4 linked regions of the Homo sapiens genome follow. The protein of the gene in region 2 interacts with the protein of the main gene of each other region in a biochemical or structural test. Each region holds a gene or a part of one and is shown on either strand. Other genes may lie near its edges.

Evidence for each region.
Region 1: the proteins of LRP1 (region 2) and PDGFB form a complex in vitro, tested with the Homo sapiens proteins (one study listed by BioGRID).
Region 3: the proteins of LRP1 (region 2) and BDNF form a complex in vitro, tested with the Homo sapiens proteins (one study listed by BioGRID).
Region 4: the proteins of LRP1 (region 2) and GULP1 form a complex in vitro, tested with the Homo sapiens proteins (one study listed by BioGRID).

The regions. Positions count from the first base shown.
Region 1 is NC_000022.11:39,227,961-39,234,982, forward strand, and holds part of PDGFB (platelet-derived growth factor subunit B isoform 1 preproprotein), read right to left. Parts: intron 5,565-7,022; coding exon 5,475-5,564; intron 3,868-5,474; coding exon 3,662-3,867; intron 2,269-3,661; coding exon 2,124-2,268; intron 1-2,123. UniProt on the Homo sapiens protein: Growth factor that plays an essential role in the regulation of embryonic development, cell proliferation, cell migration, survival and chemotaxis. Potent mitogen for cells of mesenchymal origin.
Region 2 is NC_000012.12:57,194,483-57,201,504, reverse strand, and holds part of LRP1 (prolow-density lipoprotein receptor-related protein 1 preproprotein), read right to left. Parts: coding exon 7,002-7,022; exon of another isoform or gene 6,929-7,001; coding exon 6,806-6,928; intron 6,521-6,805; coding exon 6,404-6,520; intron 6,235-6,403; coding exon 6,106-6,234; intron 5,848-6,105; coding exon 5,725-5,847; intron 5,643-5,724; coding exon 5,502-5,642; intron 5,419-5,501; coding exon 5,228-5,418; intron 4,524-5,227; coding exon 4,340-4,523; intron 4,207-4,339; coding exon 4,121-4,206; intron 3,961-4,120; coding exon 3,841-3,960; intron 3,350-3,840; coding exon 3,162-3,349; intron 3,041-3,161; coding exon 2,835-3,040; intron 2,294-2,834; coding exon 2,105-2,293; intron 1,629-2,104; coding exon 1,480-1,628; intron 1,064-1,479; coding exon 970-1,063; intron 807-969; coding exon 690-806; intron 472-689; coding exon 352-471; intron 9-351; coding exon 1-8. UniProt on the Homo sapiens protein: Endocytic receptor involved in endocytosis and in phagocytosis of apoptotic cells. Required for early embryonic development. Involved in cellular lipid homeostasis.
Region 3 is NC_000011.10:27,655,437-27,662,458, reverse strand, and holds part of BDNF (neurotrophic factor BDNF precursor form isoform a preproprotein), read left to right. Parts: intron 1-2,186; exon of another isoform or gene 2,187-2,303; intron 2,304-2,800; exon of another isoform or gene 2,801-3,873; coding exon of another isoform or gene 3,874-3,894; coding exon 3,895-4,638; 3' UTR 4,639-7,022. UniProt on the Homo sapiens protein: Important signaling molecule that activates signaling cascades downstream of NTRK2. During development, promotes the survival and differentiation of selected neuronal populations of the peripheral and central nervous systems.
Region 4 is NC_000002.12:188,287,158-188,294,884, forward strand, and holds the start of GULP1 (PTB domain-containing engulfment adapter protein 1), read left to right. Parts: upstream 1-4,716; 5' UTR 4,717-5,009; exon of another isoform or gene 5,010-5,454; intron 5,455-5,670; exon of another isoform or gene 5,671-6,023; intron 6,024-7,042; exon of another isoform or gene 7,043-7,236; intron 7,237-7,727. UniProt on the Homo sapiens protein: May function as an adapter protein. Required for efficient phagocytosis of apoptotic cells. Modulates cellular glycosphingolipid and cholesterol transport. May play a role in the internalization and endosomal trafficking of various LRP1 ligands, such as PSAP.

The sequences.
Region 1 (7,022 bases), on a different chromosome or scaffold from region 2:
GGCCCAGGGAGTTTCTTCCCCAGAGCCTGGGCCATCAGCAGGACACTGGGCTATACCAAGCCCAGGCAAGCACAAGGTCACCACACAGCTCAAGTGACAACACGCAGATCTGAGCCCAGGAGGTCTGACACTGACCACATTATCACAGAGAGCCACACTACCAAGCCTTAGCCAGGCCCATGGACAGGTGACAGAAACACCGTCATACTCAACCAAAATACCGGAACTAAAATGATGGGACTTTACATCATCTACGTTTCACTGGTATAATGCGCCTCCCAAGAAACTGGTTTAGAAAATTACGTCAAACAAATACATGAAGTAACTCACTCTAAACATAAAGAAGGCCAGGCGTGGTGGCTCAATGCCTGTAATCCCAGCACCTTGGGAGGCTGAGGTGGGAGGATCACTTGAACCCAGGAGTTAGAGACCAGCCTGAGCAACGAATCAAGACCTCATCTCTACAAAAACTTAAAATATTAGCTGGACGTGGTGGCACATGCCTGTAATCCCAGCTACTCAGGAGGCTGAGGAGGGAGGCTCGCTTGAGCCCAGGAAGGAGTTCAAGGCTGCAGTGAGCTATGATCATGCCATTGCACTCCAGCCTGGGTGATGGAGAGAGACCCTGTCTCTTAAAAAAGAAAGAGGCTGGGCGTGGTGGCTCACGCCTGTAATCCCAGCACTTTGGGAGGCCGAGGCAGGTGGATCACTTGAGGTCAGGAGTTCAAGACCAGCCTGGCCAACATGGTGAAACCCCGTTTCTACTAAAAATACAAAAATTAGCCGGGTGTAGTGGCATGTGTCTGTAATTCCAGCTACTCGGGAGGCTAAGGCGGGAGAATTGCTTGAACCCAGGAGGTAGAGGTTGCAGTGAGCCAAGATTGTGCCACTGTACTCCAGACTGCGTGACAGGGTGAGACTGCCTCAAAAAAAATATATATATATATAGATATATATAATTTTCCCTTAATAGAGAAATCACCCTCCATATTAACTCAATAATTTACAACATGTCAGTTTGAAGCTGTCATATGATCAGCCTTTCCATGGCATCCAGCGACTCAGCTCAGCTCTGGGAATAAGACACAGATGCCAAGAAATGGCTCCGTCTTCAGGGTCTTGTTAATAAGAAATGAGAATGAAAAGATTGTCCTGTCCCTAACAATAGAAAGTTACTGAAAAAGAACTATCACTTACGTGATTTTTTTAAACGCTCATCTAATCGTATTAATCATTTTTTTTTTGAGGCAGGGTCTTGCTCTGTTGCCCAGGCTGGAGTGCAGTGGTGCCATCACGGCTCACTGTAGCCTCGACATCCCAGCCTCAAGCGATCCTCCCACCTCAGCCTCCTAAGTAGCTGAGACTACAGGCGTGTGCCGCTATGCCTGGCTAATTTTTGTATTTTTTGTAGAGATGCCTCACAATGCTGCCAATTCCACCTTGCACCCCTGACTGATCACCAGCTAGCTGTTCTGCATATGGAGCTGAAATCTCTCTCCAGTGGCTTCTCCCCACTGGTCCTGGTTCCCCCGCTCAAGGATACGAGAAATTCGTTTGATTTCTCATCCCCAGGACAAGCTGCTCACTATCGGAAGTTGATGTGCGCGGAGCTTTCTCTCATCCAGGCCCAGATTCCTTCCACCATCCCATCCCCACATCCAACAAAGCAGGGGGCTATGGTAGCAAGACTGGAAATGGCGCTGCTCTGGATGGGGTGGTCAGGGCAGACTTCTAGGAGGAGGTGACTTCTGAGCTGAGACTCTAATGAAGAGAAGGAGCTAGGCTTGTGGAGAGCTGGGAGAAGTGTTCTTCAGCCACAGCAGTGTGTGCTAAAGCCTTGAGGCAGAAACTCCATTAGTTACTGAAAGAGGCCTGCCCGGCGGGGGTGGCACAGGTGAAGGGTACTGGTTGGCAGAGACCAGAGAGCCAGCCAGGGGCTAATCCTCATGTAGGGCTCTCAGGCCAGGGAGGAACCTGGCTTGTGTCTCAGCAAGATGAAAAGAAAGCCTCCCGTGAATTTAACCGGGGGCGGGCCTGATCCCATTTCCATTTTTAAGACCGGCCCCTGCCCCCAGCTGCTGCAGGGGAAGGGGGCTGAGGGCTGAGCCTGGAAAGGTGGTTACCTCGCTGCTCCTGGGAACCCCCCGGGCTTCGGGTCACAGGCCGTGCAGCTGCCACTGTCTCACACTTGCATGCCAGGTGGTCTTCCAGCGTCACCGTGGCCTTCTTAAAGATTGGCTTCTTCCGCACAATCTCGATCTTTCTCACCTGGAGGACAGAGCCACAAAATGCCTCTGTAGAGACCACACAGCCAGGAGCCCGGGAAGCCCGAATGGCTTGCGCTTCCCACCCCGGTGTCCCCTGCAGCAATCTTTCCTCGAAAGCCCGGAGAGCAGGCTGTGGGGCAAAAGCTTTGGCCCAAACAATAGCAGGACCTTGACCTCTGCCCTTCTCGTAGCTTTTCCATCAAAACAAGCCCTCCCGACCTGGGGCCCCCCTCAGTGCCCCCAGAGAGGGACAGCCAGAAAGGCATTTCCGGGTTGAGCTGGGGCCTGCGGTATCCTCATTCCCGGAGCGCCAGCCAAGGTCAGGGCTGCGGCAGAGGCGGGAGATGGTTGTCTGGAAGGAAGTGGGGGGAGGCTTCATCTAGGAGGGAGGTGGGAACGGGGAGGTCAGATGTCAGGTGTCCATCCATAGAGCTGGAAGCATCGAGGACAGGAGATACCACGAGAGTGGGCAGTGGGGTGGAGTGACATTCGTAGTCTCAGGCGTGGGGCCCAAGCCAGGGAGGGAAGGTGGGCAGGAGGAGAGGCCACGGGCTGGTGGCAGGAGAAGGAAGTGCGGCTAAGCAGGCAGAGCATCGGGCAAGGGCCGGTGCTGAGCTAGAGAAATGCGCACTGCCCAGCCTGTGGGCGAGGCTGGCCTGGGGCGTGCAGGAATCTTTCCACAAGAAGCAGAAGCAGCAGCTTCTCTGACTCTGCCCCGACTAGGGTGAGACCAGGGTGCTCCCTGAGACAGCCTCTACTCTAGAATTTTCCCTGAGTCCAGTGTATGTATCCCCCGTCCCTCCGAAGAAAAGCAGGATCAGCATTCCACTGTTGTCAGGGGACCTGCCCCAGCTCCGCAGTGTCTATCACCTGGTGGGCCTCTCTGCACTCTCTTTATTAAAGACACAGCTTGTCAAAGAGAGACAAGCAGGTGTCAAAGATGCAGGGCCACCCATCTGAGCCTTTCTCAAGACAGCCCTGAATAGGGAGAGCTTTGGGGGAACCTGAGTAGCTCCCCAAAACATTCTGAGTGTCAGATAAATGTTTGCGGATACGGCTCTTCAAGGGACGTTTTGCGATTTTGTCCTTGTAAAGGAGGTGACATCCCTACTTCACGTTGGCTCCACACCTCGCCCAGCCCGGGGGGTCTGTCTGTGGCTTTTGGCTACAGTGGCCTGAGCCACCTCAGAGGACTCATGGTCGGCCTCAGTCCACCTGCCTAGGAAGAGCTTCCCAAGAGTGGGCCTCTCTGGACAGAGCCCAGGAACAAATCAGGAATGTCCTTCGACACACCACTCTGCCCAGTCAAGGAAGCCTGGTCAGGTATGAGCCCCAGAAGGGTGGTCTCCACCCACCACCGGGACCAGCCTCGGGGGGCCGCGGAGCCTACGCACCTGGACAGGTCGCAGCTGCACCTGGGTGGGGCGGCACTGCACGTTGCGGTTGTTGCAGCAGCCGGAGCAGCGCTGCACCTCCACACAGGGCGGCCACACCAGGAAGTTGGCGTTGGTGCGGTCTATGAGGCGCCGGGAGATCTCGAACACCTCGGTGCGCGTCTTGCACTCGGCGATCATGGCCGGCTCAGCAATGGTCAGGGAACCTGGGAGGAGACGAAACCTGGGTCAGGAGCGTAGGCCTGTCCAGAGTCCCCCCACTTGGCAGGGGAGCTCAGCGGGTGCCTCCGGGACTGCTCTTTCTCACGCCCTTCAACCCCAGGGTTCAGGTTTCAAGTCCTGGCTGTCATTAGCCATGGGACTTGGGCAGATGGCTGAGCCACTCTAAGCCTGTGTTTCCCCATCTGAAAATGGGACCATGAGATCTACACCCAAGAACCACTGTAGTTTCAAGTGAGAAAATTCAGAGTGTGGGGCATGTTGTAAATGCTTAGTAAATGTCCGCTTCCCTCTGCTGGCACATGACTATTTTATTCTTCTTTATGATTTTACACATTTATGGGCTTGCCCAACATGTGGTTTTTATGCAGGTACCATATTAGCTCGAAACCACGCGTGCACTGCTGTCTCACGGTGCCTTGGATTCCTGCATCACTGCTGCTTTCAAAGCCTCAGCTTCCTCCTCTATGAAATGGGATAATAACAGCACCTCCCTCCCATGTGGATCTAAGGTGTAAAGTGAGTAAGCCTTGCCTACAGCAAGCACTGAGGTTACCGATGCTATCCATGTACAGAGGACAGGAGGCTCTGAGAGCTGAATATCCCGTCCGCCCACATTCATAGATTGGGGGTGGAACTCAGGCCACCTGACTTTTTTCTTTTTTTTTGAGACGGAGTCTTGCTCTGTCGCCAGGCTGGAGTGCAGTGGCGTGGTCTCGGCTAACTGCAACCTCCGCCTCCCTGGTTCAAGCAATTCTCCTGCCTCAGCCTCCCAAGTAGCATGGACTACAGGAACCTGCCACCACGCCCAGCTAATTTTTGTATTTTTAATAGAGACAGGGTTTCACCATGTCGGTCAGGATGATCTCCATCTCTTGACCTCGTGATCTGCCTGCCTCAGCCTCCCAAAGTGCTAGGATTACAGGCGTGAGCCACCATGCCCGGCCCAGGCCACCTGACTCTTATTCATCGTTCCCCCAGCCTCTAACTGCAGTGTTTTGGGGACTCCAGGTGTCAAAGAGGAGGAGGGGTTTGAGTGGACATTTGCCTCACCTGGGAGGGTTTCTCTGGGACCTAATGATCTACGGTCTCCTTTAGGTCTCTGCAAGGGAGCAGGAGGAAGTTCCAGGCTTTGCTCGAGGTCTACCAGCCTAGGCCGCGGCCCTTTGCCACAGGAGATACCCATAGCCCATCAGGGACCACGCTGGGTTCAAGTGAGGGGAGCAGGTTGGGATCTCAGCCCTACCGCTCCCTAGCAGTGTGACCTCGCCTAGTTCTTTACCCTCTCTGGGCCCCAGTTTCCAACTCTGTGAAATGGGGTTAATAATATCTACCTCCAGGATTGAAATAAGGAACGAATGAGCTTTGCAGCACTATATTTAGAAACCAGAGAGTGTGGGGGCGAGGGGCTGTGATGACTGAACACAGGCATTTAAGGATGGTTTTACTCTCTCAGTTCGCTCAGTCCTGAATGTGGGGGGAACGGGAGTTGTAAGAGGACCCTCGGGGCCCTCCGACTGGCTGCCCGCCCCCGTTCTCTTTCCCTGGCCCCCATGCTAATTTGAAGGACCCTTGTTGGGTGTCTCAGTCTTACCCAGGCTCCTTCTTCCACGAGCCAAGCTCTCCAGCTCGCCTCCAGAGTGGGAGCGGGTCATGTTCAGGTCCAACTCGGCCCCATCTTCCTCTGCAGGAGAAGTCACAGTCAGACACCAGGCGGCCCCACCTTGGGCAGGGGCTCCCTCCGCCGGGGTGTCTGGGCAGGCGGGAGGTTTGCCTCTCCCCCACTCCAGAGAACAGTCCCTCCTTCCAGCCCCCATAAATGCACGGGTCCTGGCCCTGAGCAGGGACCCTCCAAGCAGCCCCCAGGACAGCTGCAGGCCCAGGATCCTGACTGCATCCCTGGCTCTTTAGCCAACATTTTTGGCCAGAACCCATGTCAGTGGAGTTAAAAATAACCCTTCCCCTTTGCTACTGTAAGTGAACCCTCCTCGGCCTCCAGGGCGGGGCCGGGACCTAGGGCACTGAAGGCCAGTTTCCAGTGCCCCTCCACCCAGCGTTCCCATAGGAAGTGCTGAATGGAGAAATTCCCAGAAGCCCCAGGGGGACCGCATGCCCTGAACACAGCCCCTCTGGAGCCCCGGACAATGGCCGCGCTGGGCAGGCGGGAGCCACGGAGGGAGGGAGGGAGGGAGAGGGATGGGGGTGGGAGCTGAAGACAGAGAAGAGGAGAAGAGGGGTGGGAGTTGGGCCTGCTGGGGGTGGGGAGTCCCTGCCACACACCCTTCTAGGGCCTGGTCTCTCTAGCTCCGGGGCCCTCACACCGTATCTGTATCTGTGTCTGTCTCCCTCCCCTTCTCTAAACTGTTGCCCCACCTCTGCCCCCAGCCGTCTGTTGATTCCTCTGGTCACAAATGACAGCTCCCTTTTCTAGCCTGGGCACCATCTCAGTCCCATCAGCCCTCCTTGGAGACATCGGTCCTTTCCAGAGCCCATGGCCAGAGGTTGGCTGCTGGGAAGTGAGGGCTGAGGGAGGCCTCTGAGCTGGATGTTAAGGCGTGGACAGACCCTTCTGTCTCTCTCATGGGTGAGGAGCCACAAATAAACTAAGGGGCATTGGGAACACGCTCCTGCCACCTCCACACAGCACCCCATGGCTCCAGTTCTGGCACCGACCCACTGGCCCCATCCAAGACAAAGGCGCCTGCCGCCTGTCCGTCCCGGGTACTGCAGGGAGTCTGATGACTAGTCCGCTTCCGTCCAGCCTGACAGCCCCTACGTCAACGAGCCTATCTGTCCCTCTGGCTCCTTTCCTTTCTCCCTGCCATCTCTGGAATGTCCCTGGTGGGGAGGAGATGGGGAAAAGATGCGCTTTGTGGAAAGGTTAAGTTGATTAGGAAAAAATAGCCACATGGTTGCCTTGAAACAGGCCTGCTATTGAAACCTCATCTCCAAGATCCCGACCCCCACCAGGGGTGTGGAGGGGCCGTCTGAGGGTGGGGGTGTAAAGGCTTGGAAAGAAATGGTAGAAAGGCTAAATTTGGAAGTTGCCCCATTGTGTGTGGCCAGGGGCGGCCAGTCGGGCATAGGGTGGGGGTTGTGGGAGACATCGGGTGGGGGCCCTGGCGAACAATAGGTGGGCCCA
Region 2 (7,022 bases):
CACCTCGGCTGTGGGGTGGGCAAGAGAATGAGGGCCCTCCCTTACACCTGCCACTCCAGTTCACCATCACTGTCTTCTCTCTCTTCCAAGCCCTGGCCTTGGTCCTGCCAGCAACTTCTTCGGAGGAAGGAACAGTTTATCCCCAGTTTTGGTGCTTTTTGTTTTCTGGATCTCTATGTCTCTATATCATGCATGATGATTTTTATGAGCAAAGCAAGTTACACCCAATATAATTTGTGTTGCCCATCTACTAAAGTTATTTGAGAGCCTCTCAAAGCTGTGGGGAGATTCTGCCTGCCCTGCTTCCGTGTCATCTCCCACCACCGGCCCACCACCACCTCTGACACTCACGGCAGTCCCTCTCATCCTCCCCATCTCCGCAGTTGTCCTGCCCATTGCAGCGGAAGATGCCGGGAATACAGCGGTTGGTGTTGGTGCATTTGAACTGACTGGGCAAGCAGACGTGGATGTCTGTGGAGGGAGGAGGAGGTGATTCGTGGCGAAGGGAGGACTCAGGGGCAGGGAGAGGGTGCCCATCCCTCAGCAGGGAGGACACAGGCTTGAGCCATAGGAATCCAGCCTGGAGAGCAAGCTGCCGTGGGCTGCAACTTCCCTGCACTTGAAAGCCCCAAATCCTGGGGCAGGGAAGATGCTGGGGAAGGAGGGAGGGTGGGCGGGCAGCGCCTTACCACAGTTGGCCTCGTCACTGTTGTCCTGGCAGTCATTGTCGCCATCGCAGATGAAGGCAGGGTTTGTGCAGATACCTGTGGAGCACTGGAACTGTCCGGGCCGGCACTTGAACTCAGCTGCCAGAGAGGGAGGCTCAGAGTCAGAGCGGCTGGGGTGGACACGGCCAGGTCCACTTGCAGGGCACCACAGCCCCAGCCTCTCCAGTGGCCATTCAAAGCCTCAGGAGTCAGGCCTCCGACACAGCTGGGGGCCCTCCTGTCACCCCCAGCAGGCACTCACGGCAGTCCGGGGGCTCGTCTGAGTGGTCCCCGCAGTCGTCCTCGGTGTCACACTTCCACCAGAAGGGGATGCACTTGTCGTTCTTGCATACAAACTGGAGGGCAGGTGGGGGCAAGAGGGGTTGGTGGGGGTCTGGGGGACTCAGAAGTCTTTCTTTTGAGGGGCTTGGATGTTTCAAAGAAGTTGAGGCAGGGGTCAGGGTGTTATGGGGCAGGTTGGGCTATGGTGAGTTCGGAAAGGCCAGGTATGGGGCTGCGTGGGATAGGGTGGGGAAGGCAGCACTGAAGCATGGCAAGGAGGGTCAAGGTTAGGGTGTGGAGGTGTCTGTGTGAGGTGACGGGGGTAAAAGTATTGCTGTGGGGAGACAAGAGGTAGGCAAGAAATGTGGGGGTGTTAGTGTGGGAAAACCAGATGCATGAGGACATTAGGACAGAGCAGGTGTTGGGGTCCAAGGAGGATTTGGGGGTTGGGGAGCGGGCACTGGTGATGGGGTCTGGGGGACAGCCTCACCTGGCTAGCCGTGCAGTTGGACACACAGGTGCGCCCATCGCTGCCCAGGTAGAAGTTGGTGGGGCAGGCACATTTGTGCCCTCCCCCGGGGGACAGCAGGCACAGGTTGCTGCAGCCACCATTGTTGACCTTGCAGGGGTGATTGGGCACTGCCAGAGAAAACGTCGTGAAATATGGTGACATTTTCTGGCCTACCAAAGGCTGCCTCACTCACTCTATCCTGGACAGAGGCGGGTGGGTCTGAACCCTGCCTCTTTTAGGAGGGAGCTGAAGCTGGAGATAGGAGAGGATTCTAAGGTCCCAGGATCAGGCCAGGCCTGAAGGCCAGCTCCCCACCTCCTCTGTGCTTCCCTCCCAGGGGCCGGCCTGCCTTCCTTCTGGGGGCTGGGCACCCAGACCCCCACTTGACTGGCCTCAGGGACTTGCTGCTGCCAGACTCCAGGGCTGGATCCAGGCCGGGCTGAAGCTCCCGGGAGCCAGACCATCCCCTGTCTAGACCCTCCTGGAGTCTCCCAGTGTCTGGCCAGGAGGGCTTGGTCAATGCTAGAGAAGGGATGAGCAGGAACTCCCAGGGACCCCGGTGCCTGGCTCACCGTTCGCCTGCTCCCACCCCTTGCCTGCTCACCGTCTGGCTGGCGCAGGGCATGGAAGACATGCAGGTCCATGGGCCGGTGCAGCGTGCTGATGAGGAGCGTTTTGTTGGTGCCCGTGGTCTTGTGGGCTCGGTTAATGGACTTTGTTTCCCAGTCGGTCCAGTAGACGTAGTCCTCAAACAGGGTCAGTGCAAAGATGTGCGGGATGTCCTGGCTCAGCACTGCAGGGCCAAGGGGCAGGCACAGTGCCAGTCAGCCGGAGCTCGGACAGGGTGCCGGCCCACTCCACCTCCTCAAGCCCTACCACCACCCTGAGAGGTGGGTGTCAGCCCCAGTTACAGATGGTTCATGGTACAGACCCCCCATGGTCTCACAGCTAACAAGTGTCAGAGCTGGAGTTCAAACCTAGACTGCCTCATGGCAAGTTCCTGCCCTGCCAGTGTATGGCTCCCCTCGGGAAGTGGGGAGCACTGCAGTTCTCAATCGCAGGCCTCCCACCCCCACCCTCCTTGGGGCCAGTCCTCCAGAACTGTGTATACAAGGGAAGGGCCTCTCCTCTTCCTTCCCAAGGGAGCTGGGTGGTGGCCAGGCTGGGGAAGCCCCCGGGGTGCTCTGAACCCCACACCCCAGTGAGTGGTGTCCTCAGGCCATATCCTCCGCTTTTTATGTCCACTCTTGCCCCCAAAACTTGATCCCCTGTCGCTTCAGACCTCCATCCCCACTGAGTCTGCTGTGCCTGGACAGCCTCACTGGCACACTGACCAACGTGGCGATTGGAGCCATCCAGGCTGGCAAATTCAATGTAGTCCTCGCGGGCGTCGGCCCAGTAGATGCGCTCAGTGACATAGTCCAGCGTCAGGCCATTGGGCCATGTGATCTTGGTGTCCACGATGACGCTGCGGCTGGACCCATCCATGCCGATGCGGCCGATCAGTGAATGGTCACCCCAGTCTGTCCAGTACAGGTACCTGGCGATGGGTAGGCAGTGAGCCCTGGGAGATCCCGTAACCCATCGCACCAGTGGCCTGCAGGGAGGCTGGGCTTGGATGCTGCTTTCAGGGGCTCCCCCAACCCTCCTCAGCCACATACCCATTCTGCACATCCACCACCAGAGCCCTGGGCTCACGGAGGCCAGAGCTGACCAGCACCGTCCGATAGGCCCCATTGAGCTTGGACACCTCGATGGTGTCCCGGCCTTTGTCGCACCAGTACAGGTTGCCACCCACCCAGTCCACAGCCAGCCCATCGGGGTTGCTGAGGCCTGTACGGTGTAGGACCTGCAGGAAGGGGCAGGGGAGGGAGAGCTCTGGGTGACCTGGGGGAGGACCTGCAAGCCTCTGTGAGGCTCAGCCTCCCCTCGTGTAAAATGGGGTAGAGCTCCCTCTGACAGCTCTGGTGGGAGAACCATGGAAGTAAAATGCCCAGTCCTGGGCCTGACACTGTGTAGGTGTCAGCAGAGGCTCTAGGAGAGGGGGCTCTAGGTGAATGGGACCACGCCCCAAGCCTCACAGTGCTTGGCCAGACCTCACAGGGAACTTCCTGATGATTAAGGAGACATGAGGCTGGCAGCGAGGGGAAGGGCAAGAGGAATCTCCCAGTCCTTGCTGTCTGGGCCCAGAGGAGAGTGAGCAGCTAGAACAAGCAGTCATATAGTGACTAGTGGAGTGAGAAGGAAGCAATTTGGGTTGGTGGGGCGGGAAGGAGAGACGATCTGAAAACAGTCATCTGAGGCGGGCCAGTGTTGGTCGCCGAGGGCCGCCCGCCTCACCTGCACATTGCTCCCGTTAAGGTGCATCCTTCGGATCATGCTGCCCTGGGTGGTCACATCTGTCCAGTAGATCATCTGCTCTCGGTAGTCAAAATCCAAGGCAACGGCGTTGTTCAGGCCCTGGATTTGGGGAGTGAAGGACAGCAGAAGTCGGTTGTGGCAACAGGGGCCACATTTGCATCTGGGGGAGGGATGGTTGGACCTAAGCGGGGAGACTTGCAAGGGAGGCTGTGCTGGGTCTGGGAGATGGGCAGCGGGGAGGAGGGCCTGGGTTTGGTACCTGCTTAAGTAACGTGTAGTTGGACCCGTCCAGGTTGAGCTTGCGCAGGTAGTACCGGTTGGCGAAGATCAGAAACGGTTCCTCGTCTGCAGACAGAGGATCTTGCCTCAGCTCCTGGCACATTCTAGCGGCCCTGGTCTCCTGCCTGTCTGGAGCTCTGCCACCCGGGCAGTCCCACACAGCCTGGGTCACCTCATGCCCTCCAAGCGCGCATCTCACCAGTCACAGCCTTGCAGCTGTGGGGGTCGCCGCCGCGGGGTGCATAGCCCTCCACACACAGACACTTATAGCTGCCATGAGTGTTGATGCAGCGCTGGCTGCAGGGGAAGGTGGTGCTGCACTCGTCCACATCAGCACACGTCCGGCCGTCGTCCTTCAGCCGGAAGCCAGGGCGACAGCGGCACTGCAGGCACAGGGAGCCTTGGGCTGGGCATGTGGCAGGGTCTGGGCCTCCCACCCTGGAGACCTGGCTCAGAGACTCCAATTCCCTCTACCCGGCCTCACTAGGGGCAGCAGCATATGGGTACTGAGCCCACCCAGCTGGCCCACAGTGCAGGCCTCCTTCTGTGTGCCCCCGAGTGTCATTTGACAGAGCTGCGTGTGCCCTCCCCATGGAAATGCTTTCTTCTCGTGGCTGTTCTCCTGCCTCAGCAGCTGCTCCTTCTCAGGCTCTTCTGCTGGTCCCCTCACTTCCCTGCTCCTGGCTGTTGCTCAGCTCGGGGCTCAGACTTTGGACTCCTCTCTTCTCCACCTACACTGCTCCCTTGGGAATCATATCCAGGCTCACAGATTCAAATAGCATCTCTATGGTGATAACTCCCAGACTTCCCTCTCCAGCCTGGGCCTCTCCTTGAACTCCAGACCTGTGTATCTCTTGCCTACTTGATGCCTCACTCCTCTCTTCCTCTCACACTGCATATCTCATCTGTCAGCAAATCTGCTGGCTCTCTACCTGCCAGATAGAGGCAGACCCCAACCAAGCAGATTTCTGTCTCATTCACTGCTGTATCCCCACTGTCTAGGGGATGAATGAATGAATAAGGCAGTGGAGAAAGGCGTTCCTGGCACGTCTGGGGTGTGGAAGCTCCTCCCCAGGGCTGGGCATACCTTGAAGCCGATCTTGAGGTCCTCACAGTCCTGGCTGCAGCCACTGAGCTTGCGGCTGAGACACTCATTGATGTGGCAGCCACGCTCGTCCGAGCTGTCGCCACAGTCATCCTGGCCGTTGCAGAGCAGTGCCTCAGCCACACAGCGCCCACTGCTGCACAGGAACTGTGACGAGGCATTGCACTTGTGCTCTGCGGAGGGGCGGAGGCGGCAGGTCAGCGGGGTCTCAGGCAGTCTGGGGAGGGGGCAGAGGGGAGCCAGGTCTGGGGCCCACCTTGGCTGGTGCAGTGTGGGTTCTTGGGAGCCTCGTCACTCTGGTCGTGGCAGTCATTCTCGCCATCACACTCCCACTGGCGGGAGCTCAGACAGCGCCCATTGGCACAGCGGAACTCACTGGGGCCGCAGGTCGGGTACTCTGGGGGAGGAATGGACCTGTGAGGCTGATGCCCTGGCCCGGCAGAGGGCAGGGCCTCCTCCCACCACCGCCGAAGGCTCACCACACTCGGGGGACTCATCAGAGCCATCTGCACAGTCACGGTCGTGGTCACACACGAAGTGCTTGGGGATGCACTGGCGGTTCTGGCACATGAACTCACGGTCGTCACAAGTGCTGTTGTACACTGTGGACAGAGGTGGACACAGCCCTTCAGCCCTGCCTGGCCAGCGGCCGACCGTCCCTCACTCTAACCTCCTGTGGTTCTCCTGGTAGAGTGGGCAGGGCACTGGATGAGGAGTCTGGACACCTGGGCTACAGCTATGGCTCCGCCCCCAGTGGACCCCGCTGAGGCATTTCCTCTCCTGCACCCCGGCTTCCCCATCTGCAAAGTGAGACTGTGGCCATTTGCTGTCCACCCGCTCCACGTGGCCCCGCCACTCACAGCAACCAGCTGCGATGCTCTCGTCTGCACCATCAGCACAGTCTTTGTCACCGTCACAGAGCCAGCGCTCGGGGACGCACACGTGGGTGCCAGGGCAGGAGAAGGAGGAGGGGCCGCACGTCTTGCCTTCTGTAGGGGGAGAGAGGGCCACTGAGAGACTTAGGAGCGGGTAGATCAGGTCTAGCAGTGGAGGTGATGGTTCGCCGTCGTCTGCAGGGGTGTCTGTGTGTGGGGTGGAGTTGGGTGGGGTCTGTCCCTCCCTGGGGCACCTCCCCCGGCCCAATCCCAGCTTCCTTACCACAGTGAGCAGCCTCGTCTGAGCCATCCCCACAGTCATCGCTGCCGTCACACAGCCACTGCTTGGAGATGCAGCGATGGTTCTGGCACTCAAACTGGGCCTCTGAGCAGAACTTGTCTGGGGCAGTCAGAAGCCACAGTTAGATGGGGAAGGGTGGGGGTCACCCACCTGGGGAGGCTGATGCCATGGGAAGGACAGGAGAGATGCCCACAGCACCCCTCTGTGGGGGGGCTCAGCAGCAGCTAGAGGCAGAGTCTCTGAGTCTGACCTCAAGAGTTGGGGTGTGGGGCAGGGGGTTGAAGGCTCTGGATGCCCTTTTCCAAGGGGGCATTTGCTGGGGGGGACTAAGAAGTGGGGCCCAGCAGGCTCTTGGAGCACTGAGTGGGTGCAGTGGTCACTCACTGCAGTGGGTCTCGTCCTCGCCATGTTCACAGTCATCCTCTTTGTCACACGTCCAGCTCATGGGGATGCAGCGCCCACTAGGGCAGGCGAAGTAATTCAGAGGGCATCTGGGGCGTTTCACACCTGGGGGGCGAGGCAGGTGTGAGGGCCCTGCTCACCGCAGGCCACCACCCACCACACACCTGCCCCCGCCCACCTGGGCAGTCGCGCTCATCAC
Region 3 (7,022 bases), on a different chromosome or scaffold from region 2:
AATTTCAATGGGTTCACTGATCTTTCCAAATGAAAAGGCTTCTTACGAAAATTATATCCAAACTGTCTTTTCTCTTAGTTTAATAAACCTATCAGTAAGTTTTTACTGAGTACTGCTATTACATTTTTCTCTGTTAAGCATTATGGGGGCTCAGACATGATCCATTCCCTCAAAGAACTTACCTTTCAGCTGAAGACTGACTAGAATGAGCAAATACGGTTAACAATTAACAAGTGAGTAGGCCAGCTCGGCCAACATGGTGAAACCCTGTCTCTACTAAAAATACAAAAATTAGCCGGGCATGGTGGTGGGCGCCTGTAATCCCAGCTACCTCCTGCTGAGGCAGGAGAATTGCTTGAACCCAGGAGGTGGAGATTGCAGTGAGCCGAGATTGCACCATTGCACTCCAGCCTGGGCGACAGAGCAAGACTCTGTCTTGGGAAAAAAACAAAACAAAACAAGTGAGAAGGGAATCAAGTACTACGTAAGATGTAATGTGGAATTTTAGGGAAGGAAGGCAGTGTATGCTGGAGTAATTAGAGAAAGGGGCATGCATGATTTGATGCTTGAACTGGATCATGAAGGATAAGCAAGATTTTGGCAGCAAGTGAGAGGGAGAGAGGAGTTTGTCAGAGGAATGGAACAAGTCAGGAGGCAGTAATGTGTACGGCACTCCAAGGACTCTGTCCTGATCGGAGCAGAAGTGATGAAGCATTGAGTAGTTTGAGAAAGTTAGCTAAGAAGGGTGAGGGCAGATGTTGGAGAGAGTTGAGTATCAGAGAGAAGACATTAGATTTGAGCAGATAGAACAAAAATGCCATTGCCAGTTTTTGTGTAAGAGAATAGTATTAGGGTGGTTACCCAGGAAGTGGTCATCAGAGTTGAATGGAGCAGAAAGAGTGTCTGATACAGCATCGGGACGTTGTGGTCACAAAATGAGGTGGTGAGGGCTGAGCCAAGATGGTGGCAGTGGGATGGATAAAAAGGGATGGCCAGGACAAATATTTTAAAGGAAAAATTAACAGGACATCTTTACTGACTGGATTGGAAGGCTATGCAGGAAATATATTGTCAAACTTGATTCCAGGATTTCTATCCTATGCCTGGGTTGCCCAAAATATCAGGGAACCATTGTTAGAAAAGGTAGGAGATACCACTGTTCCAACAAAAAGTATTGAGTTTGGTGTTGCACCCACTTAACTTCAAGGCCTTACAAGTGAGTAGACAGTTAGTTAGAATTGCAGAAGTGCCACTCAGAGAGCAGGGCTTGCAATGTGGGGTTGGACTTTGTCACCATTGTGTTAATTCCTAATTCTATGCAGATGCTCAGCTTGAGGAATACCCATGTTTGGGCTTCAGAATGAAAGCCAAGTAATATTTACTCAGATGCCAATTTTCCCTCTGAAATATTTGCTCATGGAACTGAGAGAACAATATATAAAGCATTAATTATTTTTCTCATAAAGTTATTAATAAAAAGATAAGATCAGTGAAAGGCAGAGTAAACTAGAAGCCAAGTATAGAAAATGGTATCATTCAAAGACTCATTACTGTAGTGGTGAAAACAAAACAATTTTCCAACAGCTTAAGATGCCTCAGTATTTTGGACCATTTTTAAGTAGTTAGTGTGGGCACTTAGTAAATATGTATTAAACTATAGTTCATTAATTCTTTTTTTTTTTTTTTTGAGATGGAGTTTCACTCTGGTCACCCAGGCTGCATTTTTGCTTTCTTAGTGATATATAAAATGTCGAGTTTCACAATGATGGTATCTTAGATTTGATTAAATATGGTATTAAAAAATAGCTGATCACAGAAAGTCTCTACCAGTGTGATGTAGATGGCTAAAGTATTCCACATTTGCAAACTTTTATTGACCTAAATAAGAGGTGCCCCTTGGGTTGTTTTTATTTGGACTGGGAATATTAGGAGAAAGCTTTTTCATTCAGTGTGTAAGTACAATCTACCAGAAATAGAAACCCCCATGGACGATCTATTTCTTTGATGGTACAGGACTCAGAACATTCACAAAGATTTAGTTGTTAGCGGAATAGACATCTGTATTTTATTCAAACCAATTTTCCCTTCCTAATCTGAGAACATTGTGCAATCTAAGCAGTTCTAAGCATGTTTGCTATTCGTGCAAAGTGAGAGTAAATCTAAAAGAAATTTTTTTGTGTGTTTAGGGATGGTAATAAAGTCTCTTAGTGGTTGAAAATGTTATTTCTTACAAAAGTGGAGAACATTTGCTTTTCAATACCAGAGTTTTCAGCCATTTCTGCATTCTGACCTATTGACTGGAGGTAGGTTGCCTTTGAATTCAGTAAAACTTCATGGGCAGAAACACAGTTCCTTTTCCTACTTATTTGGATATCATGATGGCCATTGCATGTATGTGTCTTTTTGTAAGTCCATGCCTCAGAACTGAGAAGTAGGAATAAAATTAGGGTCAGGGCTGGGGATGCTACTCTTTGCTGCTGAGAAACACAATGCTTCAGGTAAGTGATTCTGAAGTCCTTCACCACCTGACGGTAACCTTGGGTTGGTCCATAGGTATGTTTTCATTTTGCTTGTTCATCCATTTTAATTGGCTTCCTAGAGCATGCTTGTAGATGTAGAGCCAAATTTAGAGTAGAGCAACCCTCTGGCAAACAGGAAGAGATTAATTTTGTGGTATGCTTTTAAGGGACTTCCCAGGAAACTTCAAAAGCAGAAAAAGAAGCACTAGCTGCCTATTCCAAAATGTGTAAAACACCACTCAGCTTTTTAAAAGTAGGATAAACTCAGAGCGCGCGCACACGCGCGCGCGCACACACACACACACACACAGAGAGAACATCTCTAGTAAAAAGAAAAGTTGAGCTTTCTTAGCTAGATGTGTGTATTAGCCAGAAAAAGCCAAGGAGTGAAGGGTTTTAGAGAACTGGAGGAGATAAAGTGGAGTCTGCATATGGGAGGCATTTGAAATGGACTTAAATGTCTTTTTAATGCTGACTTTTTCAGTTTTCTCCTTACCAGACACATTGTTTTCATGACATTAGCCCCAGGCATAGACACATCATTAAAATGAACATGTCAAAAAATGATTTCTGTTTAGAAATAAGCAAAACATTTTCAGTTGTGACCACCCAGGTGTAGAATAAAGAACAGTGGAATTGGGAGCCCTGAGTTCTAACATAAACTTTCTTCATGACATAAGGCAAGTCTTCTATGGCCTTTGGTTTCCTTACCTGTAAAACAGGATGGCTCAATGAAATTATCTTTCTTCTTTGCTATAATAGAGTATCTCTGTGGGAAGAGGAAAAAAAAAGTCAATTTAAAGGCTCCTTATAGTTCCCCAACTGCTGTTTTATTGTGCTATTCATGCCTAGACATCACATAGCTAGAAAGGCCCATCAGACCCCTCAGGCCACTGCTGTTCCTGTCACACATTCCTGCAAAGGACCATGTTGCTAACTTGAAAAAAATTACTATTAATTACACTTGCAGTTGTTGCTTAGTAACATTTATGATTTTGTGTTTCTCGTGACAGCATGAGCAGAGATCATTAAAAATTAAACTTACAAAGCTGCTAAAGTGGGAAGAAGGAGAACTTGAAGCCACAATTTTTGCACTTGCTTAGAAGCCATCTAATCTCAGGTTTATATGCTAGATCTTGGGGGAAACACTGCATGTCTCTGGTTTATATTAAACCACATACAGCACACTACTGACACTGATTTGTGTCTGGTGCAGCTGGAGTTTATCACCAAGACATAAAAAAACCTTGACCCTGCAGAATGGCCTGGAATTACAATCAGATGGGCCACATGGCATCCCGGTGAAAGAAAGCCCTAACCAGTTTTCTGTCTTGTTTCTGCTTTCTCCCTACAGTTCCACCAGGTGAGAAGAGTGATGACCATCCTTTTCCTTACTATGGTTATTTCATACTTTGGTTGCATGAAGGCTGCCCCCATGAAAGAAGCAAACATCCGAGGACAAGGTGGCTTGGCCTACCCAGGTGTGCGGACCCATGGGACTCTGGAGAGCGTGAATGGGCCCAAGGCAGGTTCAAGAGGCTTGACATCATTGGCTGACACTTTCGAACACGTGATAGAAGAGCTGTTGGATGAGGACCAGAAAGTTCGGCCCAATGAAGAAAACAATAAGGACGCAGACTTGTACACGTCCAGGGTGATGCTCAGTAGTCAAGTGCCTTTGGAGCCTCCTCTTCTCTTTCTGCTGGAGGAATACAAAAATTACCTAGATGCTGCAAACATGTCCATGAGGGTCCGGCGCCACTCTGACCCTGCCCGCCGAGGGGAGCTGAGCGTGTGTGACAGTATTAGTGAGTGGGTAACGGCGGCAGACAAAAAGACTGCAGTGGACATGTCGGGCGGGACGGTCACAGTCCTTGAAAAGGTCCCTGTATCAAAAGGCCAACTGAAGCAATACTTCTACGAGACCAAGTGCAATCCCATGGGTTACACAAAAGAAGGCTGCAGGGGCATAGACAAAAGGCATTGGAACTCCCAGTGCCGAACTACCCAGTCGTACGTGCGGGCCCTTACCATGGATAGCAAAAAGAGAATTGGCTGGCGATTCATAAGGATAGACACTTCTTGTGTATGTACATTGACCATTAAAAGGGGAAGATAGTGGATTTATGTTGTATAGATTAGATTATATTGAGACAAAAATTATCTATTTGTATATATACATAACAGGGTAAATTATTCAGTTAAGAAAAAAATAATTTTATGAACTGCATGTATAAATGAAGTTTATACAGTACAGTGGTTCTACAATCTATTTATTGGACATGTCCATGACCAGAAGGGAAACAGTCATTTGCGCACAACTTAAAAAGTCTGCATTACATTCCTTGATAATGTTGTGGTTTGTTGCCGTTGCCAAGAACTGAAAACATAAAAAGTTAAAAAAAATAATAAATTGCATGCTGCTTTAATTGTGAATTGATAATAAACTGTCCTCTTTCAGAAAACAGAAAAAAAACACACACACACACAACAAAAATTTGAACCAAAACATTCCGTTTACATTTTAGACAGTAAGTATCTTCGTTCTTGTTAGTACTATATCTGTTTTACTGCTTTTAACTTCTGATAGCGTTGGAATTAAAACAATGTCAAGGTGCTGTTGTCATTGCTTTACTGGCTTAGGGGATGGGGGATGGGGGGTATATTTTTGTTTGTTTTGTGTTTTTTTTTCGTTTGTTTGTTTTGTTTTTTAGTTCCCACAGGGAGTAGAGATGGGGAAAGAATTCCTACAATATATATTCTGGCTGATAAAAGATACATTTGTATGTTGTGAAGATGTTTGCAATATCGATCAGATGACTAGAAAGTGAATAAAAATTAAGGCAACTGAACAAAAAAATGCTCACACTCCACATCCCGTGATGCACCTCCCAGGCCCCGCTCATTCTTTGGGCGTTGGTCAGAGTAAGCTGCTTTTGACGGAAGGACCTATGTTTGCTCAGAACACATTCTTTCCCCCCCTCCCCCTCTGGTCTCCTCTTTGTTTTGTTTTAAGGAAGAAAAATCAGTTGCGCGTTCTGAAATATTTTACCACTGCTGTGAACAAGTGAACACATTGTGTCACATCATGACACTCGTATAAGCATGGAGAACAGTGATTTTTTTTTAGAACAGAAAACAACAAAAAATAACCCCAAAATGAAGATTATTTTTTATGAGGAGTGAACATTTGGGTAAATCATGGCTAAGCTTAAAAAAAACTCATGGTGAGGCTTAACAATGTCTTGTAAGCAAAAGGTAGAGCCCTGTATCAACCCAGAAACACCTAGATCAGAACAGGAATCCACATTGCCAGTGACATGAGACTGAACAGCCAAATGGAGGCTATGTGGAGTTGGCATTGCATTTACCGGCAGTGCGGGAGGAATTTCTGAGTGGCCATCCCAAGGTCTAGGTGGAGGTGGGGCATGGTATTTGAGACATTCCAAAACGAAGGCCTCTGAAGGACCCTTCAGAGGTGGCTCTGGAATGACATGTGTCAAGCTGCTTGGACCTCGTGCTTTAAGTGCCTACATTATCTAACTGTGCTCAAGAGGTTCTCGACTGGAGGACCACACTCAAGCCGACTTATGCCCACCATCCCACCTCTGGATAATTTTGCATAAAATTGGATTAGCCTGGAGCAGGTTGGGAGCCAAATGTGGCATTTGTGATCATGAGATTGATGCAATGAGATAGAAGATGTTTGCTACCTGAACACTTATTGCTTTGAAACTAGACTTGAGGAAACCAGGGTTTATCTTTTGAGAACTTTTGGTAAGGGAAAAGGGAACAGGAAAAGAAACCCCAAACTCAGGCCGAATGATCAAGGGGACCCATAGGAAATCTTGTCCAGAGACAAGACTTCGGGAAGGTGTCTGGACATTCAGAACACCAAGACTTGAAGGTGCCTTGCTCAATGGAAGAGGCCAGGACAGAGCTGACAAAATTTTGCTCCCCAGTGAAGGCCACAGCAACCTTCTGCCCATCCTGTCTGTTCATGGAGAGGGTCCCTGCCTCACCTCTGCCATTTTGGGTTAGGAGAAGTCAAGTTGGGAGCCTGAAATAGTGGTTCTTGGAAAAATGGATCCCCAGTGAAAACTAGAGCTCTAAGCCCATTCAGCCCATTTCACACCTGAAAATGTTAGTGATCACCACTTGGACCAGCATCCTTAAGTATCAGAAAGCCCCAAGCAATTGCTGCATCTTAGTAGGGTGAGGGATAAGCAAAAGAGGATGTTCACCATAACCCAGGAATGAAGATACCATCAGCAAAGAATTTCAATTTGTTCAGTCTTTCATTTAGAGCTAGTCTTTCACAGTACCATCTGAATACCTCTTTGAAAGAAGGAAGACTTTACGTAGTGTAGATTTGTTTTGTGTTGTTTGAAAATATTATCTTTGTAATTATTTTTAATATGTAAGGAATGCTTGGAATATCTGCTGTATGTCAACTTTATGCAGCTTCCTTTTGAGGGACAAATTTAAAACAAACAACCCCCC
Region 4 (7,727 bases), on a different chromosome or scaffold from region 2:
AAATCAATAAGAAAAAGAAAAAATATATGAAACAATAGAGAAAAGAGAAAAATGTACAGAATATATAAATAGCCACCTCACAAAAGAAAATATAAACGGTTATTAACTTTATGAAAACTTATTCAGTTTTATTAACAGTGAAAGTAATAAAAATTAAAGCGATTGAGCTGCTAATTTTTCACTAAGATTATTTGAAAATTTAAGTGTTTGGAGAAAAAAAATTAAGGGCCAAGATGGAATAGTTTACATGATGTCATTTAGGTAAACGAAAAATGCATATGAAAATAAATATTTTGAAAGAATACTTACAAAAAAGTAGTAGTATGGGCCGGGCGCAGTGTCTCACGCCTGTAAGCCCAGCACTTTGGGAGGCCGAGGCGGGCGGATGACGAGGTCAGGAGATCAAGACCATTCTGGCTACGGTGAAACCCCGTCTCTACTAAAAATAAAAAATAAAATAAAATAAAAAAATTAGCCGGGAGTGGTGGCGCGGCGCCTGTAGTTCCAGCTACTCAGGAGGCTGAGGCAGGAAAATGGCGTGAACCCGGGAGGCGGAGCTTGCCGTGAGCCGAGATCGCGCCACTGCACTCCAGCCTGGGCGACAGAGGGAGACTCCGTCTCAAAAAAAAAAAAAAAAAAAAAAAAAAAAGGAGTAGTATGTACGTTATACTTCCACATGAAAAAAATGGAAAGAAAATTGTTAAGTGTCTGTGGGTGCTGGGTAATGCCTTTCCTCTACTCCTGGTTTCCATGCAAAAATATTTTACTGGGTCTTTACTTACTTGCCCTTGGAGAGATGTTATGACATTTGGTAGATAAACTTAGGAATAAACTTGGGAAGAATTGCTGGGCATGCCAGGCTCAACTACCTTTCTCTCTCTTTCATTCTTTGGAATAGAACTCAAAAAACAATTTAAATCCTTTTTCAAAGGCACTGTCTCCTTTCAGGTTAGAAGGAGGCCAGGAACTACGTTGACTGAGGCTGCTGTTTCAGTTCTTTGCTTTTGGATCTACCAATTCAAATCCGTTATCTGTCAATCATAGAGTAATATTTTGCTCTCATTTTTTTGGTCAATTTATTCCCCACCCAGGCATAAAGAAGGGATACTATTTATCCGGGTCTCTCAGAGGCCTCAACAAACCTTGGAGCATATAGAGAAAATGTGAGCAATAGGTACTTTTGGTGATGGGAATACAGGTGATATTTATTTCCCTTTTGCAGTTGCCCTCCTATTTTTTTTTCTTTTTTTGCAATGGTCATGTTTCATGTTCTTAATCAAGAAGATCAAAATAAAGCGATTCTTTCAGAATGACAGATAAAATGATAGAGGTTTGAAGGTAAATGTAACACAGTAACTTTGGAACCCAGAGCCCCTAGGAACTCATAGGATATTTGGCCACTGTTACACATGACAAACAGAAACATGACCCCCTTTCAAATCACATGACTGAAATTTGAATTTCAGTCTTGGTTTTCATTACAGTTTTTAAAAAGTTGTCAAATACTTTAAATGTTGGTTTTGCAGAAATATAGGGCTAAACAACCAGCATATTTTTTGTGTGCTTTTGCAATAATCAGAAATAAAATTGGTTTTCTTAAGGTAAGTAACAGGTCGTTTTTTTGTCTTAGCCAAAGTTCCCTTAGTTAGGGTAAGAGAAACTTAATTCTGGTTTGAGCAAGAAAATTAATTTAAAAATACTGGAGGCCAGGCGTGGTGGCTCACACCTGTAATCCCAGCACTTTGGCAGGCCGAGGCGGGTGGATCACGAGGTCAGGAGATTGAGACCATCCTGGCTAGCAGAGTGAAATCTTGTCTCTACTAAAAATACAAAAAAAAAAAAAAAAAAAAAAAAAAATAGCCGGGCATGGTGGCGGCCGCCTGTAGTCCCAGCTACTCGGGCGGCTGAGGAAGGAGAACGGTGTGAACACGGAGGCGGAGCTTGCAGTGAGCCAAGATCGCACCACTGCACTCCAGCCTGGGCGACAAAGCAAGACTCCGCCTCAAAAAAAAAAAATAAATAAATAAATAAAAATAAAAATTACTGGAAAGCTGCTGAGTTTCTATCAGGGTCTATATGAACCTATGATGAATGTGAAGAACTTTCAAATGGAAATCTGAGGTATTTGCAGTAGGTAAAATTAGGCGTATTTGTCATCGTAGTGCCCTGCTAGGCTTCTGCAACCCTTTTCTTTGGCATCTCCCTTCTTCACTTCCTGGGGCATGCTATAAATTTGTTTTAAAATCTTGTTCCATTTGGTTCTATTGTTTTTAAAAACTTGGTTCTGACACTCTTGAGATTTTTATACCTCTAAGCCATTTCACAAAGAAGATCATATCAAAAGTCAGGTTATAAAAATTACAAAGCAATAGCAAGTTTAAAGACTTTAAACAGTGGGAGAAAATATAAAAGTGAGTAATCTTTAGCACTGTATGTAACGATTGGAAAAAGACAGTTATGAGGACTCATCTATCTTCATTTATCCATTCATGATGGATGTGCTTTGTAGCCATATTTTTTTTTCCCTCTTTAGGATCTTCCAAGTCTTATGGATAGGAAAGACAGATCTCTAAAGAGGCTATGATATGCCTTTAGGAAACTGAGGATGAGGCCGGAGTAGTAAATAACTCTTACTTAGAAGGAGTATATAGGGTCTCATCCCTGAGAACATGGGAGTTAGTTATGTAAATGTTCAGATGATTTTCAACATTGTATATGGTAAGGAAGAATTTTTTAAAAAGACCTTCTTACAGGTACTAGAGGCAAATGAATGAGAAATAAGTACATGCTATGGGATTTTCCATTATTTCACAGGATGGAAAGTTTGATCTCTGTAGCCTGATTTTGTTCTTTGGCCTTGAACTTGTTCAAGTTGAATTGTGTGTCCTGAACACTGATCTAGTTGTTCACAAACTAGGGTCAGCCAACTGTAGTGGTATGTTGATGTATTCTTGGGAATCGAGAGTTATTATAATCTTTTAATATTATGGCTAAAAAACCCAAAATATCTATGTGTAAATATATAATGTAAGCATGGATTCGTTCATCTCATCAACCTCCTTATTCCTAAATACTGGACTACCATTTGTTTTATTTTTATAATCACATTGATACCAAGTGATCATCTAAATGACATTATTTAATTTTTAATGATTGTTCATAAATTAATTGCTTAAGAGTTATTTACAGAAAAAAACTAGCATTTGTCCTGAGATTAATATTTTTAATATAATTATTTTTATGTGTGCTTGACTATTGTGATAAAGAGAAAAACAGTTAAAAGAGGACCCCAGCCAAGTTATTATGAGGACTGATTTCTGATATTAGCTTTAGTACCTCCAAACCATGAGATTTGGGGAAAGTCACTTAAGAGCCCTAGACTTCAGTTACCTTGTATTTAAAATAAGGGAGTTCAGCTGGAACTAGTTAATCTGTAAACATAGTTTCCATTTCAAAAATTGTGAAATGATGCCTTTTTAAATGGAAAAAGCATTAAGGAGAAGAAAACTGATTCAGTTACAGGGTCTTTGGGGGAAAATTTCTAGCACCACCCTCTCTCCTAATTACAGTAAAACATGGTGGGATATAAGAACCAAATATTTATTGAGTATTTTCTCTGCGCCTATCACAACTCTATTTTAACTCCTGTAAATGTGACTGTGACTCCGTGAGCTAGATTATAGAATTCCTGTTGACAGTTATAATTGGTAGGCACAGAAAGCGTAAAGATGGAGTTTGGAATGGAATCTGGCCTGTCTGACTCTAAGCCCTGGATCCACTGTAATACATTATAACTGCTAGCTTTGCAAAATGCCTTTTTCCTTTTCTCATCTATTTTCACACTCAAACTAAAATTTAGTAAACTAAATTCTGAGCAGCAGAAAAAATTTTAGTAAAGGTCCTCTCATCCTTGAAGAACTTCTTATATAAGGATACTCCTTCTTGCTCCCTTTCCCACGCAGAACTTTACCAAAGGTCAGTAAGAATGGGCTGTTGTGTTTTCTCTCAAATCCTATACAGAAGTCCTTAATTCCGAGGTAAACATCTGAATGGAACAAATGAGTATGATCTGGGGGTTAAGGCAATTTTCAAGTGTGTGTATGTGTGTGTCTGTTTTAAGGCATAACAAAGTCCAGAGATTAAGGCCGAGTTAAAAAACAAATGAGGACAAACCAATGAGGACAAACCAGTCCGCTGAGGTGCGGCCAGAGCAGCAGCAACTGTGGCTGCTTTCTTGATAAAGGCTGTGAAGACGGCACGTTTTACTCTTATTCGTGTATTTCTTTTGACACTTTACCCCTCTATGAAGCCTCAGAGGTGTTTTAAAATTGTGTTAGGAAACACACAGAGATAAGAAAAGGCAAATGGTCCTGATCTAGTGTCTCAGGGAAGAGGCTGGAAAGGAAACGCGGCGCGAGTGGGGTGGGAGAGGGGGCCTGTGGTTTTGCTTCTGTCCGGGCTGAAGACTGAGTAAGGTAGGGCCCCTCCTTCTGCGGATGGGTTTCTCTCTCATTCCACCCTCCACCCACCTCCGGTTCCGCGTGCACGCGCGAGATAGTCCAGTGGGCCCACAGATAACGACCATCAGAGATTAAAGAAGGAAAGTCAGCGAGCTTGAACACAGGCGTCCCGTGTGGAAATGTCCAAGGAGACCGCCAGAAGTGCGCAAGCCGGAGTCGGCTAGAGTTTCCTTCTCACCGAGAGGGGGAGCCCGGCGTTCCCGGCCGGGAGCGACCCGGAGTCCCCAGCCCCGCGTCCCAGCTGCCGCCAGCGCCAGTTTTGGATTCGGCGGATTAGGAAGAGGAGGGAGGGGGGAGAGAGCGCGAAGAGGGAGGGGACCGAAGCTGGAGGGTCCCGAGTCCAGCGCCGTGTTGGCGTAGAGAAACTTTCCCTCTCGGCCTCGGAGACGGCGCCCCGGCCGTGCCGGAGTGGAGATCGCCAGGCTCGGAGGAACCGGCAGCTCTCCACGCCCCTGCCCGAAGCCTGACCCGACTGCCTCTCTCAGTGAGGTACGGAGATTTATCTAGGCTCTTCCCTGGCTGCGAACCCAGGCTCCCTCCAGGTAGCGTGGAATCGCTTAGAAGCTGATATCCCGAGGGGCGGTGGGGGTGGACAGCTCCGGCCACCAGTGCCCGGGAAGGAGGGCGCGGGGCTGCGCGTAGCCGCTGGCCAGCAGGTTGTAAAAAATTAGGACAGCTAAATGCTCAGGGAGTCGTCCAGCACTAAAGGAGGCTAAGACCTGTTGACGCCTGCTATGGCAGCGCTTGAGAAATGACTGGGGGAGTCCAGCGAGGTCGGGGACGCAGCGGTCTCCGGGCTCCAGAAACCTCCTTAGCCTTTTGTGGTAACTTTGGTCCGGCGGCGGGGGGCCGGTGAGCAGGAACTGGAGGGAGGCGGTGGGGAAACCGTGGATCCGTCCGGCTGAGGGTGCGTGGATCAGACTGGGCTGAGCAGGCAAGTCATCGTCGGGTCACAGCGAGGCGACCCAGGAGCGAACTTCCAGGGCAGCCTCCCTTTTGTTGGCGCTGGGAGAGAATGTGGGCATGGGGGTGGGGAGGCGCGAAGCTCCGAGGCCGGGCCGCGGATACTTTAAAGCTCAGAGCTGGGAGGGCCCAAAGGAAGGGGCGGCGTCCACATGGTTACCCTTCTGCTGCGCGGGTCAAGTAGCTTCTTCTGGAGGGCGCAAGGCGCGGCGGGGGTGATGAGCCCTTGGGTTCTCGCTCCGACTGCTAAATTCGCTTGGCCGGGTCCACCTTCTCGTGGCCTCACTCGCCACACGGATCAGAATCCGGAGCAGGCAGTTCTCTCTATTCTGAGGCTCCTGCGGCTGCCGCGCTGACTTCCCTGTGTGCGGGAGGGAACTCTGGGCAGGCTGGTTTTCTTGGAATGTGTTTACGATGTTGAATGGGACTTGAACAGGAAGCTGGACGCTGCAGCTGGAACTAGCGTGCCAAGGTAGAGTAAGGAAGACTTAGCTGGTGTTGGGCTTGGCGGGTCCACTTGGTACGCTGGGCAAACTCCAAGTAAGTGAGGGCTGGCAGTCAAGGTACCCCTCCCTAGGTCCTAGTAGTGTTTCCCAACTGAGCTCGCCTTACTCATTTGCAATCAGACATTTTACATGCACTATTTCAATCTGCAAGTTTGACAAAGTGTAATGCAGTCAATTAGGAAGGATTTAATAAATTTATTTTGTGCCTGCTTTTAAAATACGTTACACCAACATTTGAGAATAAAAAGTTACGGAGAATGTTCAAGTCATGACTGATTTCTAGGACTAGCAGGAGACAATACTGATGATTTTGTGTCTGTATTACAAAATGGGTGATTAGGTGCTAAAGTAAGGGAGATTATTAGACAGAGTGAATGTGAGGAAGTGGAAAACTTTCAGAGGAATTGGAAATTCTTCAAATTTGCAAATTGCTCCCTTTCTCTGCCAGTCTTTCCCTTTTCCCCCCATATGAACAAGTAGCCTTGGCTGGAAAACCCACAAATTGGGAGAGTGCAGTCGCTGGTGACTACAGGCTTTGCTGGAAACAGCAGACAGGCTAAGGTACTGCCCCACTGCATAATTAAAGGTCTCCTTGAGCTGTCCAGGAGTGTTTTCCAAGTTTTTACGACTGACAAGGAAAAAAAGAGAGGAACCTGGCCGGCAGCCAAACTAGACTGAGCTCAGTAGCCAGGCATGAAAGAGACTGGGCAAGTTGCAGGGGCTAATTGGAAAGGGGCTGTCGGTTGCACTTGGGGTTTAAACAAGAGGTTTCTTTTGCAATGAGAATTTTTAGGTGGCTAAGATCAGTCTTCTTGGCAAAAAAATAAACTAAGCATAGAGTGCAGTTGGATATGACCGAGGAAATTACAAAAAGGGCTCCAGGAGCAAAGTCTGAACTTTCCTTATCAGTGTTGCAGTGGAATAGCTGGGGGCCTGATGCTGTTTGTGCTGATCATACTTTGCAAATGCCCACACTTTGTTGCTGTTTGTCTCCTTGGACGAGGTTTGCTGCAACTTCAATTCCTTGACTTCGGCCTTACTTTGTTTTCATAGCAGCAAGAATTGAAGACTTAAGGGTTTGAGCAGATGGTTTTCTACCTAAATTGAATAATTCAATTACGTATTCTCAGCTAGCATGGATTTGGGTCATGGAATTAAAGTAGAAACGTATCCGGCATGACTTCTTTGTGCTTATCAAAAGTGATCCTGATAAACAGATCTTGCTCTTTCATGTAAAGAAGTAAAAGGTGAGATGATCTCAGTATTTCACACATTTGCCCTTTACTGCTTCCTAATTCCAAACCAGCTAGGAACTCAAAGCCTTAACTGCAATTCAGACTCTTCTTTGTGTATTAAAGTTGTGTATGTTTCATCTCTCTTTTTTTTTTCTTCAGAGAGGTGGGTTGTAGGTTTACTATTGTGGGCTTAGGGGTTAAATGGTTAAAACAAACAAACAAACAAACAAACTAATGTGGTTTATATTTCCTCTGTATTTAAGAGTTTGAGATTGTGAATATTAGCCTGCTTTCTGAGACTCACTTTGTGAATCACCCTCAGCCAAATGTTTTCCCTGACTATGATTTCAGTTTTTCCACTTGCAAAGTAAAGAAACTTTCCTTTACATAATTACAAGATTATTGTGAGAATTAAAGAGATGAAATAATGTTAATAGGCTTTTCGACATAAAGGTCATAGGATTTCTGACTCAGCTGACTCAGTTGAGTTTATGGGGATAAAA